2 separate regions of the Homo sapiens genome follow, and region 1 is linked to region 2. The links come from fine-mapping of genetic effects on gene expression. Tissue or cell type: whole blood. Region 2 holds a variant in brackets; the other region holds the start of a gene. All regions are shown on one strand. Distances are from middle to middle.

The links. PIP is the estimated chance that this variant, and not a neighbour inherited with it, causes the effect.
Region 1: it holds the start of FBXO38, and the variant in region 2 is fine-mapped to the expression of FBXO38 in whole blood (INTERVAL, PIP above 0.99). The same link has a PIP of 0.9 or more in blood mononuclear cells, lung and tibial artery.

Annotation. Positions count from the first base shown.
Region 1 is chr5:148,379,690-148,387,879 of GRCh38, forward strand. It overlaps FBXO38 (F-box protein 38), which reads left to right and starts at 4,269. Exons shown (of 22, transcript NM_205836.3): 1 at 4,269-4,350. It overlaps FBXO38-DT (FBXO38 divergent transcript), which reads right to left and starts at 4,161. Exons shown (of 5, transcript NR_105057.1): 1 at 3,810-4,161. RefSeq lists an enhancer at 4,046-4,245.
Region 2 is chr5:148,408,035-148,416,224 of GRCh38, forward strand. It overlaps FBXO38 (F-box protein 38), which reads left to right. Exons shown (of 22, transcript NM_205836.3): 8 at 1,090-1,183; 9 at 2,601-2,731; 10 at 6,102-6,272; 11 at 7,894-8,036. Among named protein-coding and RNA genes, the nearest start is that of FBXO38, 28 kb to the left of the region's middle. The variant C/G (reference allele first, on the strand shown) is at 3,263.

The sequences.
Region 1 (8,190 bases), 28 kb before region 2:
GGAAGAGTATGGTGGCTCCTCAAAAAATTAAAAATAGAATTATCCTATGATTCAACAATCCCACTTCTGCATCTATATGCCAAAAGATGAAAACAAGATCTCAATAAGATATTTACACTCTCATGTTTATTCCAGCATTATTCATAATAACCAAAATGTGGAAGTAACCCAAATGCCCATTGATGGATGAATAGAAAATGTGATATATACAGGCAATGGAATATTATTCAGCCTTAAAACCTTGAGGACTTCATACTAAGTGAAATAAGTCAGTCACAAAAAGACAAAGTGTGTGAAGCTACTTCTATGAGGTATTTAATGTAGTCAAACTCAGAAACAGGATGTAAAACTGTGGTTTCCAGAGCTAGGGTAGGAGAAAATGGAGAGCTCTTGTTCAATGGACATAGAGTATCAGTCTCGCAATGAAAAAGTTCTAGAGATCTGCTGAACAACGTGAATATGGTTGATACTACTGAACTGTACACTTAAAAATGGGCTCAAAAATTTTTTTAGCTCCCACATATGAGTGAAAACATACAGTGTTTATCTTTCTGTGCCTGAGTTATTTCACTTAACATAATGTCCTCCAGGTTCATCCATATTGCCTCCAATGACAGGATTTCATCCTTTTGTATACATATTTTGTGTATATGTTCCACATTTTCTTTATTCATTCATCTGTTAATGGTAGGGTGAATACAGTTAATGATAGTTTATTGTATATTTTCAAGAAGCTAAAAGAGAGGATTTTGAATGTTTGCAACACAAAGATGATAAATGTTTGCGGTGAATGGATATGCTAATTAGCCTGCTTTGATCATTATAGATTGTATACATGTATTGAAATATCACTCTGTATCCCATGAATATGTACAATTATTATGCATTAACTAAAAACTAAAAATGAATGGAAATACATAACTAAAATGGTAAATTTTATGTTATGTGTTTTTAATCACAATGAAAAATAAACAACAAATAAATAACATAAAGAATGAATTGATAAACAAAATGTGAAATATATATGCAGTGGAACATTATTCAGATTTAAAAAGGAATTAAATTCTAAATACATGCTACAACATGGATGAACCCTGAAGATATTATGCTAAGTGAAAAAATTCAGACATAAAATGACAAATATTGTTATGATTCCACTTATATGAGTACCTAGAGTGGTCAAAATCATAGAGTCAAAAAGTAGAATGGTGGCTGCCAGGGACTGGGGGAAGGAGAGCATAGGGAATTGTTGTTTAAAGAGTTTCAGTTTGGGAAGATAGAAAAGTTATGATGATTGGCGGCGGTGGTGTTTGCACAATAATGTGAATGTGCATAATTCCACTGAACTGTATACTTAAAGAGGTTAAAATGACAAATATATATATTTTGCCACAATTTTTCTTAAAAAATAATGTATGACATTATTCATGCACAAATGCAAGACTGGGCTGGAGGGACTACAAGCCTTACTTTTTGATGCTTGTGCTAATATTCATACATCCAAAAATCTAAAAATTAAAAACAATGAGGTAGTGTGGTAAATTACAGATGGCCACAAAGTCTTTGCTACATCTTCAATTAAGAGGTGGACTCTTATTCTTCTCTTGAATCTGGGCTGGCTTAGTGGCTTTTTTGACCTAACACGACGTGATGGAAGTCACTCCTGGGACTGCAGAGGCTACATTATATGAAGTTTTGTAGCTTCCTCCTGTTTTGCTTGGAACAGCTCCCTTTTTTCCCATTCTACCTCCAAGTGCTCCCTGTCAAAACCCAAACACCACGGTATAAGAAACCCAAATCAGAGGGAAAGCCCAAGTGTAGGCACTCTGATAAATAGCTCCAACTGAGCATCTAGAGATCAGCCAGCCTCAACTGCCATCAATATAACATCTATTAGAGGCTGACATTAACTACAGCCCCAGTTTGATATCTGACTGTAAATGCCAGAGACTGCAAGCTAGGACTGCCCAGCCTAACCCAGTTACCCTACAGAATCAGGGCAGATAAAATTTTTAGCCACTAAATTCTGGAGTGACTTGTTACGTAGGTACCATAATGTCTATTTTAAAGAAACCTGAACCTTAGAGCTGAAGTGATTGCCCATTGTCTCTCTGCCAGTAAGCAGAGGAACTCACAGTTAACCAAGTCTTTCTGGTTCTAAAGCCTGCATTGCTGACTACTAAATACACAACTTCTCAGTCAAAACAGCTACAATAGTTTTTTTTTTTCCTTTTTACCTTCAAAAAAAATCCTGTATTTGAATTCATAGTGGAGTTCTGCCATATACGCCAAGTCTAAGGGTAGTTAAGAATAGCCTTGATATGCATAGCACCTTCTGCAGTTGTGCACTGAACAGGCTCCATAGCCATATGAACCTGTCCTGAGCAAACTCCAACCACTATCCCTGACCAAAACTTCTCTTGAGTATTAGTCATCATTTTAACAAAGGGATTATCTGTTGTTTAGGTACCTAAGGAATTTCAAGGAAGAACACGGGCTGATACTAGAACTCATGGAAGAATGAAAAGAGATACTTTAGAATTTAATTAAAAAGTGGGGATTGAAAATTAAAACAACACAGCGGTTTAAGGTCATTTACTGTAGGGCAAACTTTCCTGCAGCGCTCAGGGACCCCATGATGGTGCCACTGTACAGGAGAAATACTAACTCAGGACCTTTTTAATGAAAACCTGTAACATCAAGGTACAAATAAATCCTAGAGATGAAGGGATACATATAACATGCTCTACCTGAAAATGTTAAAACTAGTTTTGATATCTTATTATATATAACACTCATAGCAGTGAGAAAATATCTTTAACATTTATTACAATGATTTGTGGTAGGAAATTTTCTAAACTTGAGGTAGGAAACCTTTCTTACTCATGAGTATTCATTTCAGGTCCCACTACAGTGCTTTTTACAAAAGGAGGAATGCTAATAAAATGAAAATCATATTCCATTGAATTAAAAATTCAGGCCAATTGTGCTGAAATAAATCTTACTGAATGCCTTCTAAATATGCCATGCCCTGCACTAGAAACTTTCGTAATTCCTATTTATTCTTCAGAATAACCTGGGAAACAGAAAAAGCTAAAGTCTGTTTCCTTTATTAAAGTTTGAATATGAAGAAACCGACAGAAGCAAATAGCATAAAAATTCATTTTTGTCTTCAATTACAGGAAGAATGTAACATGAAAGCTGAGATTACAATGAATAGTACATGAATATGATGAGGTTTTGTTTTGTTTGTCCTACCAGAGCTCCAAATAAAAACACAGATATATGGTTTGACATACGGAATGGGATAGCTAAAACTGTGACTGCCTAAGACAAGCTGAAACCTAAGGTGCCGAACCATATTGGGGAAAGAGGGGAAAAACCAGTAGGTCTGCTATCAATCAAGAAAAGAATAAGAAGAAATGGGATTCCCAAGCCTTCTTCAGCTTTTTCTTCTCCAGCAGAATAGCCTAGTCAATGCTACGTCTTGTCAAATTGTGTCTCACATGGCTTTAATGCACACTAACTTTCCTAAGAAGTATTTGTATCTATTTAAATCTAGGGATTTTAGCCCATATTAATTACATGTATATTAGGGCAAGAACACAGGATGTAAAAGGTAAAAATCTGAATTTCAGTCCATCTGCGAGACATTGTGAAAATCAATTACACTCTCTGAAGACAATTCCTTATCCATTAAACAACAGAAAAGGTGATTAAGTTGATCCTTGCCTACATGTCAGAGTCGTGTAGAGTTTTTAATGACACTCATGTGAAATTCCTTTGGACTGTAAAATACTATTACTTACGTGCAAAGATAATGTCCCGAAATCACAGAAGGGATGACTTAACATTAACATCTTTAACTGCGCCCCCGTCCTTCCTCTCAAAAAAAAAAAGTTCTCTATTTTTAGTTGAATGATTCTGGGAAAATCTCTATTGGAACCTATCGACTTCGCAAATGACAAAGGCGAGGTCCAGAGACTTATCCAAGACCCCAGAGTACCAGTGGAAATCAAGACCAAACCACACGGTGGAGACTGGTTCCGACGTATCAGACTCAGTGCTTCCGGCATGGCGCTTTAGTGTCAGGTGAAAGAACAGCAACCCGCCCCGCTTCTCCACCCCTGACAAGCCTTCCGAAATGCCACGCTGAACATGGCTGCCGCGCTTCGATGCTTCTTCACACACACAATATGGACACGGGTTTGAGGCTCCAGCCCCGGATGACAACACTCCGGAAATATGCGAGCGGCGGCGGAAGCGGAAGTGCCTCAGCGGTAGGGGCCGGGGAAGTGTCTGTAGCGTCCCTCCCTCTCAACCACAATAACAGGCGGAGGGTCGGCGTAGGTGAGGCGGCGGCTGAGTGGGCCTGGGGACCGGGAGCGGGGTGGCAAAGCCCGGAGTGCGTGCGGCAGGGCTGAGGTAGCTGGGTGGGGATTCTGGAACTTCCGACCGCTTAAGCTCGGCCTCTGGCCCCCTTGGGGCCTAGAGCTCCTTGAGAGATCAGGGGTTGAATTTGTAGTTCCTGGCCTTCTAGGCCGTGCTTGCGGGGGTTGCCTGCTTGTCTGAACCTGGCCCCAAAATCCAGCATAAAGAACTCTCTCTGGGCCCCAGTTTCCTCAATGAAATGGGTGAGGGTGTTGGACTGGACAGCTTCTGTGACTGTCTCCCACCCCGGGCGTCACGAATTTCATGATTTTAATGTTAAGTCGGTGTTTCGGCCAGTAAAGTGAAGGAGGTCTGTGTTCAGCGTAGTGAGGAGATGTCCCTGAGCAGGAAGCAGTGAACACATCTTTGGCTGCCACGCCTGAGTATCAGGAGCCCTGAATTCTAGTTTCACCCCTTCCACCTACACACCGTGTGACCTTGTCTAGGTCCATTAGCTTTTCTGTGCTGCAGTTTGCTTATCTGTGTTGGATGCCTTTGATGTCCGTGCCCTAGCTGTGGAAATCAGATTCTTAACTCCCTTTTCATGGAGTCTTTACAGACCTGAAAAGCATATTCTCCCTGCACTCTGCACACCCAGAATTTGACTAAGAGATGTCTACCGTGTTTCTTTGCAGACACCAAGCTGGCCAAGGGCAACTGGTCACTTAGGAAGGTTCCTGTGCAATGAGAAGCTCTGTCCAGAAAACTTTGTTTTATACACCTAAACCAGCAGTGTAAATCACTACAAAGTGAAAAACAGGAGACCTTGATTTTTGTTCCAAAGTTGCTATTAACTTGATGGTTTACTTTGGCCAAATCCCTTCCTCTCTCTGAACTTGAGATTTTTTTATCTGCTAAAGGAAGACGTTGGATTAGGTCACTGGTTTTTAATCCCCTTTCCCATTCCCCCAGCACAAGTGAAGGATAAAATAATAGTTCTATAAAGCCATGATTTTCCCAGGGAAGGAGGAGGTCCAGTCTGGAGGGTATGTATTACATAGGCATAGACTGAAAAAAATCCGCTTGTAATTTTTAACTTTCATTTTGAGAATTAACATTTTAGATTATCTGTAAGCCTTCTTTCCCCTCTTTAAAATATGTGATGCTGTAATTCTGATGTCCTCCTTGGGTAAAGAATGTAGAGTTTTGTGTGCCTCTTTGTTTAAATGGCTGTGTGCCCAGAGGTACACACTTTATATTTAGTCAAACAGATACTAATGCATAGCAGAGGAGAAAAAGGGACAACTAGATTCCAGTAAGATAGGGTGATATAGTGAAGTAAAATTGGTGGTATACTAAAATGAAATAAGGTGGTATAGTGAAATAAAATTAAAAAGGAGTTGAAGACCTGTATCCCTGCTTCACACTGGTACATCCTGCCTCTGTGACTTTGGACAAGCCATCTAACATCTCTAGGCCTCACTTTCCTTATCTGTAAAACGAAGGGTTGAGCTGGATGATTCCTAGGCCTTTTTCAGCACCATCATCCTGTTGGGGGGTTTTTGTTTTGTTTTGTTTGTGTGTGGTTTTTATCTGAGCAGTTTGGTTTATGTGGTGTGGTATTTCTTTAGACAAGAGAGGCTGTCCTGGTCAGTAGATACACAAGATAGTCTATGATGTCAATTAAGGTCTGTGAGGTCAAATTAAGTGATATGCAAGATTACTTTGATATGAGCAAGCTGAAACCAATAGAAACTAAAGAAAGGCATGAGAAACTTGAAGGGCAGGGAAGCCCTTGACCAGATAGGATCATTGAGAATATAGGGAAGTTTCAAGTGAGAGGGGGTATTTTTCACGAGGGTAAAGAAAAGTAATTTGAGTTTGGGATGGGAAGGAGATTTGAATTGACGAGATAGGAGAACACTTTTTGGAAACAACTCTGGTTTAAGAATGTGCTTGCAACACCAAGACAAAAGTAATGCTTCCTGTGGCTAAGGTCAGCTAAGCAGGCAGCCACAGAGTGACTGTAATATACCAAAGGTGGCCATAGACCACTGCATGGGAGCCTAAATTAAATGGACCATAAATCCTAATTGGTGAAGGTAGGGTGTGGTCAGATGCAGTTCTATCAGAGCATCTAGAAGCCTTTCTCCAAGCACTAGGGCATTGCTCTGGAATGCAGGAAGACAACCACAGTGACAGAGGACTGACTTGATGATAGAATGTTTACTGTAACCTGGGAAGTCTGTATCCCAGCCTGAACCTTGACACTATTTAATCTTGGGCAAGTGATTTGTCACCTTATCCTCTCTGGTTCTGTTTGTTCATCTTAAAAATTTGGGATCACTAGATGAGCTTCGATGTCTGTGAATATGAACCCCCTGAAATCGTGTATGTATTTCTGCTTGCATGAGTCTGGAAAACGGATGTGCCACTTTCATCGTATTCTCAGATGGGTTTGTGACCCACAAAAAATTGAGAACTGTGTGATTAGGTAGTGTCTCTGGTCCTCTTCAACTTTTAACATTCTGGGATTCTGTAATTCTGTCATTTCTGACATTTCCTTAAGGTTCAGAGTCTTAGGGTCTAGAAGTTGCTAAGCCTATAGGTAACACCTGGTACCGCAAAGTATAGTCTTTATATATAATACTCTCCTCCTTATTTATTCAGGCATAGCTCAGAGATACTGCAGGTTTGGTTCCAGACTACTGCAATAAAGCAAGTCACAAAGTTTTTGGTTTCCCTGTGTATATAGAAGTTATATTTTACAATGTAGTATAATCTATCAAGTGTGCAACAGCATTATATCTAAAGTAATGTATACGCCATAATTTTAAAGTACTTAATTTAAAAAAAATGCTAACAATTAATCTGAGCCTTCAGCGAGTCATAATATTTTTGTTAATGGAAGATCTTGTCTCTGTCTTGGTGGCTGCTGACTGATCAGGGTGGTGGTTGCAGAACATTGGGGTGGCTTGGCAGTTTCTTAGGACAACAGTGAAGTTTGCCTCATTGATTGGCTCTTCCTTCTAGGAAATATTTTGTTGTAACATGCGATGTATGATAGCATTTTACTCACAGTAGAACTTCTTTCAAAATTACATTCAGTTCTCTCAAACCCTGGTGCTGCCGTATCAACTGAGTTTATGTAGTATTCTAAATCCTTTGTTGTCATTTCAATAATGTTCACAGCATCTTCACCAGAAGTAGATTTCATCTCAACAAACCACTTTCTTTGTTCATCTATAAGAAGCAACTTCTCATCTGTTCAAGTTTTATCATGAGATTGCAGCAATTCAGTCACATCTTCAGGCTCTACATCCGATTGTAGTTCTCTTGCTATTTCCTCCACATCTGCAGCGACTTCCTCCACTGATGTCTTTTGTTGTTTATTATTTCAATCCTGCTCCTCCTATAACCACAGAAGTCTTGAATCCCTCAGAGTCATCCATGAGGACTGGATTCCAAACTCTTGTTAATGTTGATATTTTGACCTCCTCCCATGAATCACAGACGTTCTTAACAGCTTCTAGAATGTGTATCCTTTCCAGAAGGTTTTGAATTTAGTTTGCCCATATCCATCAGAGGAATCACAGTCTATGGCAGCTATAGCCTTAGGGAATTTATTTCTTTTTTTTTTTTTTTTTTTTGAGATGGAGTCTAGCTCTGTTACCAGGCTCGAGTGCAGTCGTACGATCTTGGCTCACTGCAACCTCTGACACCCTGGTTCAAGCAATTCTCCTGCCTCAGCCTCCCAGGTGGCTGGGATTACAGGCACATGCCACCACACCCAGCTAATTTTTGTATTTTCAGTAGAGA
Region 2 (8,190 bases):
AGAAAAAGGCAGGCAACTCAATAGAAAAAATGGGAGAAGACTTGAATAGAAAAGTTTGCACACAAGAAGCCAATAAACATGAAAAAACGATAAAAGTTTACTAATCGTTAGGGAAATGCAAATTGAAACTACAGTGTGATATTCAAGCACTAAAATGACTATGCCTACTCGTGACTAATATGAAAAAGATAAAAACAGTAATGTTGGCTAGGATGTGAAGCAACAGGACCTTTCATACACTGATGGTCAGAATATAAATTCATACAACCACTTTGAAATACTGTTTGGTAGTATCTACTAAAGTTGGTCATACACATAGCAACAGTTGCATTCCTGGCTTTAAACCCAACAGAAATGTTTACATATGTTCACCAAAAGACATTTTTAAGATTGTTCATAGAAGCACTGTTTCTAATCATCCCAAAATGGAAAGATGCCTATTGGCAATAGAATGGATAATTAAATTGTGGCATATTCATATAGCAAAATACTGTACAGTAATAAGTGAACAGACTACAGCTACACAGCGATATGGATGAATCTCATAAACAGAGTGTTTAGTAAAAGAAGCCAGACACAAAAGTATACAAACTTTGTGATTTTATTTATACAAATTTAAAACAGATAAATCAGTCATTTCTTTAAGCTATATATTAGTAATTTATGTTCTTTTTTGTAGGTAAATACAAGTTTCAGAAACATTAAAAAAATCAGTTAAAGTGGTTCTGGTCTTGTTCCATATGATATTTGGAGGTTCGAAATTTGGCCAGAAATGGCAGGGTTTCTTTTTTTACAATTCTCTCATCAGCTTCTGACTTTCTAAAAATCCTTACTTAACAATGTAAATCTTTTAGAGTAGTTTTCAGATGCCATCAGTGTCTTTGCAAAATGAGGGTCTGCTTTCATTTCCTTTTAGGTCACCAGTAGTTATAATTCATCTTAAGATATTAATTTCAATGCAAAAACAAAGCTTAGATTTACTTTTAAATCAGTAATTATCATCTCAGATAATACTTTATAATGTATAGTATATAAATACTTCACTAAAAATGCTATGGTCAAACACTTGTTTTTGTTCCTCGTCTTTAGGTGGTTTTAGAAATTTGCACACTATTGTTCTGGGAGCTTGCAAAAATGCTCTTGAAGTAGATCTTGGTTACCTCATCATTACTGCTGCCCGTAGGTATGTTTCCTCTTTGTATTGTGTCTCTCACTTTAGAAGTAATTATGTTTTTCCCTATTTTACAAAAAATTGTGGAATGTGTGTGTATATATGTGTGTACATTTGATCAAGCCTTGTTCAAATTTAAAATACGAAGAAGTCCAAATAACAGATAAGTATAACATCATGGTAGTCTTAATGTTATAACTGGTAACCAGTTGAGCTGCATACTAGCAAGCTCCAGAGTGGCATGGTCTCATATCAGAGAAAAGCAGTGGAATTTCTGGAAATGGCTGAGAGTCCAATAGAAGTTAGCATTGAAGCTCTGGTGTCTGTAGCCCTCTCAGGACCATTGTCTCCATCTCTGGATGATTTTCTGAATTGTTCTAGTTACTTGGTGATAATATTTGCTATTCAGAAATCAGTGTTTTAAATCAGCTTTTCCAAAGTCTGACCTTGTAACACCTCTATATTTTTTAACCAAGTGGTTATATCACTTTATGCCACATTTACTATTTCTTACATATCAATGGTCTACCTCCACTTTTATTTTATAATATTTTCTTTAAGCATTTTTAAAATTTATTCAGAAACAAAGCTTTTTCCATCAAGAGACTTGATTAGGATTATAAATAAAAGTGTTTCTAAGTTTAGGTAGGTATTGTTACCTACTACAGAATTATACTCTTTGTTAAAATGCAACATTAATAGCTAGCCTAAGCAAAATGTCAAATACCAGCACCAGATGCAGATTCTCACATTGACTCTTCAGGTTTAGTAAAGCACTTGAAAGGATATAAGATTCTTACCTGTAATTAATTGTTATTTAATGTATAGCTTCAGTGTACTGCTTAAGATTTCCTTACACTTTGCAGATACTCCTTTGAAGAAAATATTTTTTTTTTCAATGGAGGAAGTGGGAGGGAAGTTGTTGACATCTGTGACACTTCACTAAAGTCATGAACTTCTTTCAGAGTCTTACTGATATGGTTTGGCTCTGTTTCTCCTCAGATCTCATCTTGCAGCTCCCATAATTCCCATGTGTTGTGAGAGGGACCCAGTGGGAGATGACTGAATCATGGGGGTGGTCTTTCCCATGCTGTCCTCATGATAGTGAATAAGTCTCACTAGATCCAATGGTTTTAAAAATGGGAGTGTCCCTGCACAGCCTCTCTTTTTTTGCCTGCTGCCATCAGGCAAAAATGTGACTTGCTGCCATCAGTCAAGATGTGACTTGCTCCTTTTTGCCTTCAGCCATGTTCGTGAGGCCTCCCCAGCCATGTGGAACTGTGAGTCCATTAAAACCTCTTTTTCTTCCCAGTCTCAGGTACGTCTTTGTCAGCAGCATAGAAACGGACTAATACACTTATATTAGGAGGAATCTTTGATTCTGATGGTTTTTGTTTTACTCTGATATGTTCTCTGTCTTTATTCACAGGTTACATGAAGTTCGGATCCAGCCTTCCCTAACCAAAGATGGTGTCTTTTCTGCCCTAAAGATGGCAGAGTTGGAGTTTCCCCAGTTTGAAACCCTTCATCTAGGATATGTAGATGAGTTTTTGCTACAGAGTAAGATTTATCCCATTTTAATTCCTAGAATTACTGTAAGAAATTTACTTGACAAACTGAAATCTGAATTGGGTTGTGCCATGTCTTTTTGAACATAAGACAACTTAAAATCTTAGGTGCTCTCACGTCTTGAAAAATAAACTTTTAAATTAGAAATGTCAGTGATTTTTTTTTCCATATTGCCTCTGATTTTAGCATATTATAGAAAATATAGTTACTAACAATACACCAGAAAAAGAACCTTATCTACATTTGATATTGTCTCCACTTTACTGCCCAAGTTTCTTTCCCATTCTGCTTCATTTTTTTCACAGAATGTCATCCTTGGTTCCATTGTTGAATTTGATCTGCCACACTTCTTGAAGCTTTTGATGGTCCTCTCAGATGAGGTCCCATTCCCTGCCCATGCTCTTCATTTCCATAATAAGCCCGCTGGGGGTTCTGGATTTTCCAGATAGTGTGAGCACATAATGGTCAGTATTCATTTAATGATGATTGCTGTTGGAAAGCTTGTTCACAGCATTTTCTTAC[C/G]CATTTACAATTGAGAACTCATTTCTTTGGGTTTGAATGCATGTCAATTCATTACTCAAACTATTTTTCCATATGGCATCAATAAGATATGAAAGAAAATTTTCATCACCAACATGCTTTTATTTATTCAAGAATTCATTTTCTTCCCACCTGATTTGCAACAAGTCTTTCTTGAACTCTCATCCTCATAGCAGATAACATTTTTTCTTTGGATCTAGTTTGTATTATAGAAGAACATAAGAAGGCTTAATTCTTCCATTCAGGACAATCCAGCTCAAAAAACATGACTGTTTTTCATTTCTAATATATATTACAATAATAGTTGTGGGTTTTTTGTTTGTTTACTTTTTTGTTTTTCACAGTACTCATTAATATAGGTGATTACTTTAAAAAGTCAAGCCATCCTTTTCTAGACAGTTTACTATTAGAATCATGTTAAATCTGTATAGCTTTGAAAAAGATCAGCTTTTCTCCAAAATAGCTTTAAAATGCTAATGAGTACAATGATTTTATATAAAATTAATACATTTGATATCAAGCTTTTCTGGTTTTGAATGAAGTATCTAACATTCCCTATGTTTCTGCAATGTCTGTATAGTAACAAAATTATTAGCTTTGAAATTGATATTCTTTCTATAATTTTGTTTTCTATTTTTCCCAAAAGCTCAGAACTTGACAAATTGTGTACCTTCAGGATGGCCAAATTTAGGTCTACTGAAGAATTGTCTTCAAGTGTTAACTTCATAACCAATTATTTTCCTGTAGTGTTTCTTTCTCCTCAACATATGTTTTCAATAGCATAAAAATACCTTCTTGACTACCATTATCTCGTAGTTTTCAACACAACTTGTTTCATGTTCTGTTTCATACTTAATAGTCTGTTATGTTGAACTTTGTACATTCATTTTCTTATTTGCCACAGTTTAACCATTTCTTCCATATGCATACTATCTTCTGTCCCTCCAAAGATGACCTAGGATTCTCTGTTTCAGAATAGGTGCCTGGTACTTGTTATGGACGATATCATGAGGTCACTGCTCACTCACACTCTCTCACTTAGTTTCTCTCTTCTCAGTAATTTAGATTTGAAGCATCTCTCCAAGAAGTGGTGGCTGGCCTCTGGTAAAACTTGAGTCACTTTCTTGTTATAAAAGGTCTGGCAGAATAAATAAATAGAAACATCACCTTTGTCTTCTGACAGTGACCCAAAGATGAATCTTTAGAGAGTTCTTTGTTCATGTGGATTTATGATCTGTAAGCTTTATATAATACTGATAGAGACGTATAACTCAGTGAAAATTTCAGAAACAATATAGTCCTAGCCCTAGAGTTCTAGCAATTTAGTCCTAGAGCTTGAGGGAGAGAGAGAATTGAGGCCTGTCTGCTACTAATCATGAGACCTAAGCAAGTTAATTCTCATTTTTTAAATGAAGATAAGGTGGTATCCTGCTTTTCTCTTGGGTAGCTCTGAGGAACCAAGGGAAAAGTGATGTATACATTTACAGTAATCTCTGACACTTAGGAAGTATTCAATAAATGATAACTTTTACCTTTAGCTCACCTGTGGGCTGAAAAGAAAAACAAAAATGAATCTCAAGTAATATCATCAGGATTTTGAAAGGAGTGTGTCAAGCAGGAAGCCCCAAGAGTAGAAACATGGTGTTCATCTCAAAAAACTAAATGCAAGACATCGATTTGTCATGTTAGGTTACAGCATTTATTCAGATAGTGCCCAGGAAACAGGGTCAGTTCAAGGTTTACCCTATCTTAAGGAAAATGGTAAGTTTCATCTGAAGTCCTAAGAGCAGGGAAATGATCCTTACCAGGAGCTAAAGAAAATAGTTCAGCTAAATTGTAAAGGATGGATTAAGGTGAAATTTGTAAGATGTGCCAGGAGATACCAAATATAGGAACTATAGGAGAAAGACTGTCAACTATATGGAAAGTAAAATTGGAAGTTTGGAGAAGATGGATTGTTTTTAACATGTTGTAGCTAAAGTTGTAAATCCCTGTGATATTCAGGGCAGCTTCACCAGAGTGGCAGTGTTTTTTTTTTGTCCTGCATATTGGTTGATTGCAGACTGTGAGAGACGTATTCCCATGAGCTCTTGTATCCCCAGCACTATGCTAGACACTAAAGATGTAACTATGAACTAACAGAATCTTGGAGCGTGAGGGGGCAGGCAGATGGGAGAAATGATAAGAGGCAAGGGATGAGGTGTGATTCTTAGTGACATGATCTAGAATAAAGGATCCTCCTTTACTTATTCCCAAACCCCTAGTTTGTGACCAGAGAGTAGGCACTAAAGCCCAGTGGCATGTGTTTGAGTTAGAAGTGCACTTTTAGGGTATAGATAGATGTTACTAACCAGTGCCATGGGTTCTAACAATGAATCTTAAATTCTCAGAGTTTACCTTTCTCTACACATGTCCACACTGGGCTCCAAGAACATCATTTTATTGTAAGGGAGTTGAGTTTTTAAGATTTTGTTTTCCTTTTAAATGATAAAGCTAAAACTTTACCATGGTATGAACCAGTATGATAGATCCTTCACTTATGCTTTAAGAATTTTTGCCTTTTCTCTTCTCTAAACAATTGGAAATAATTTTTCCTACTAGCTGTCCCTTGACTTTTAATATAATTTATTATTTTGTACAAGAAGTGCTACCATATGTACGGAATACCTAACCTAAAATTATACCTGAACCCAATGATAAGCAGATGATACAGAATGATGGTAGAGACTTTTTATACTGACTGGTAAGATACAAAGTTGGTAACACTCCCTAACACTTAAGAATTTGACTTTTTTTTTTTTTAATTGATTGCTCTTTTTAGGCAGAATGGCTAATGCGGATCTGGTGAAGTATGGTTTGGCTGATGTGGTAGAAAATCCTGGTATCATCACTGATATAGGGATGAAAGCAGTCAATGAAGTTTTTTCCTGTATCAAATATCTGGCAATTTACAATTGCCCTCATCTACACAACCCATACAATTGGATCTCAGGTATTACAGACTTAAAAATACAGCTATGTTTTATTGATACTGAAATAATACAACTTTCCATGTTTTCTATGTGTGATATGATTGCATTCCTAATGTAAAATGTAGGTATTTCATTTGGATTGTTCATACAAGTTCTGGTAACCTTTGATAACCAAGTTGGAAGTATATTCAATGCCTCTTTAAACTTCTGACGTTCTCTGCCTAGAAGTGTATACTCTCCAGGTTGTGGATTCAAGTGCCCTGATTTTTATATGTACTTCTTTGGGCTAGGAACATAAAATTAAGGTTAGTTCATTGTTACCTAGGACTTAGGATATTGTAGTTATTTTCTCAGAATTATCTTCACAATAGCACATCATCTGAAAGGACAAAGTAGGTATGTATGTTGAACTTTAATTAAGTGACATTAACCTGAGATAAAAATTTCTATTGACTAGAAATCCCAGTCTATTTCAGATCTCCCCCTCCAATCTCCTATATGTAGAAGTGTGACTTTTGCACTTGATATTTTTCCCTTATGGTGGGAGTTCATTTTCCTCTCAGAGTAATGTCATCTGTTTTCTTAAAGGCCCTTCTTAGATACCGAAATTTACAAACCATTAAATAAATTGAGAGCCTGAAAAAGTTGTACTTGTGACAAAGCCTCTCACTGACACCTACAGAACAGCCTCCTCTGCTATTGAGTCACTTGACCGGGATCTGTATCTCCTCACAAAGCTACTATCCAGGCCTATTTTAGGGCTCTGGGACCTCTGCTGAGATCACTCGTTAATATAGTCATGTCTCATGTGCCAGCAGCAGTTAAATTCTATCCCTGGCCCTGCTGAACCAAGAAGTTATTGGGAAATATGAACTTTAGGATGTAGCAGGCGTAGATGACTTTAAAAAAATAACATTTATTGGGTTTTTGGTTTGTTTGTTTTCTTAAATACAGAAGAGTATAAAGAAGAAAACAAAAAATGGCCTATAATCCCATCACTCAGAATTCCTGTTAACACTTAAAAAAATAAGTAATACATGCACTTGATAAATTTCAAACAGTACAGAAAGGTACAAAATGAAAACTCTCCTCTTCTCAAAGGTAACCATCATCAACAGTTTTTTGTATATTTTTCTGGACAAATTATGCATATTGCAGCATATATATGTGTAGCATTTAAAAATGATTTATATTATACCAAAGGATCTTACTCTGTATACACTGTCCTGTAGCTTGTTTTTTGTACTAAGTATAATTTGGAGAGTTTTCCATGTCAGCAAGCATATTAAGCTCTCCTTAATTCTTTTGAAATAGCTACATAATGTTCTATTAAATAAATATGCCATAATTTTTTAATTCAGTGTCCTATTGTTGAAAAGCCATGTAGGTTGTTGAGTGGATCACATTTAAATCAGGGCTGATTGGATTCAAATTAATGTTCCCCAGGCCATTTAGTTCTCACAATGGAATTAGGTATGTAAACATCATAATTTAGAATCATCGGGTTTTAGAAGTCATGAAAAAAAGGAAAAGTTATTTTAAAAAAAAGGATTTGAAAGTCTTTGTGACCTGTATCAAAATTCATCAGTAATGGGGAAAATGTTACTTAGATTTTCTCTGGTCATGTCATTTCTTTAACAGACCACTCAAGATGGACTCGATTGGTTGATATCAACCTAGTACGGTGCCATGCTTTGAAGCTGGACTCTTTTGGCCAGTTTATTGAATTATTACCCAGCCTAGAGTTTATTTCACTGGATCAGATGTTTCGTGAACCACCCAAGGTAAGATACATTTGAGGGAGTTTTTGTTTATTTTGATAGGAAAGAAAATAAAAACAGCCTGTGATTTTTTTTTTTTTTTCTTTTCAATGATATGCCTTTACGGTGTTACAGTCGGACTTTTTACTGCCAGCCTCAGTGAAGGCATAAAGGTTGT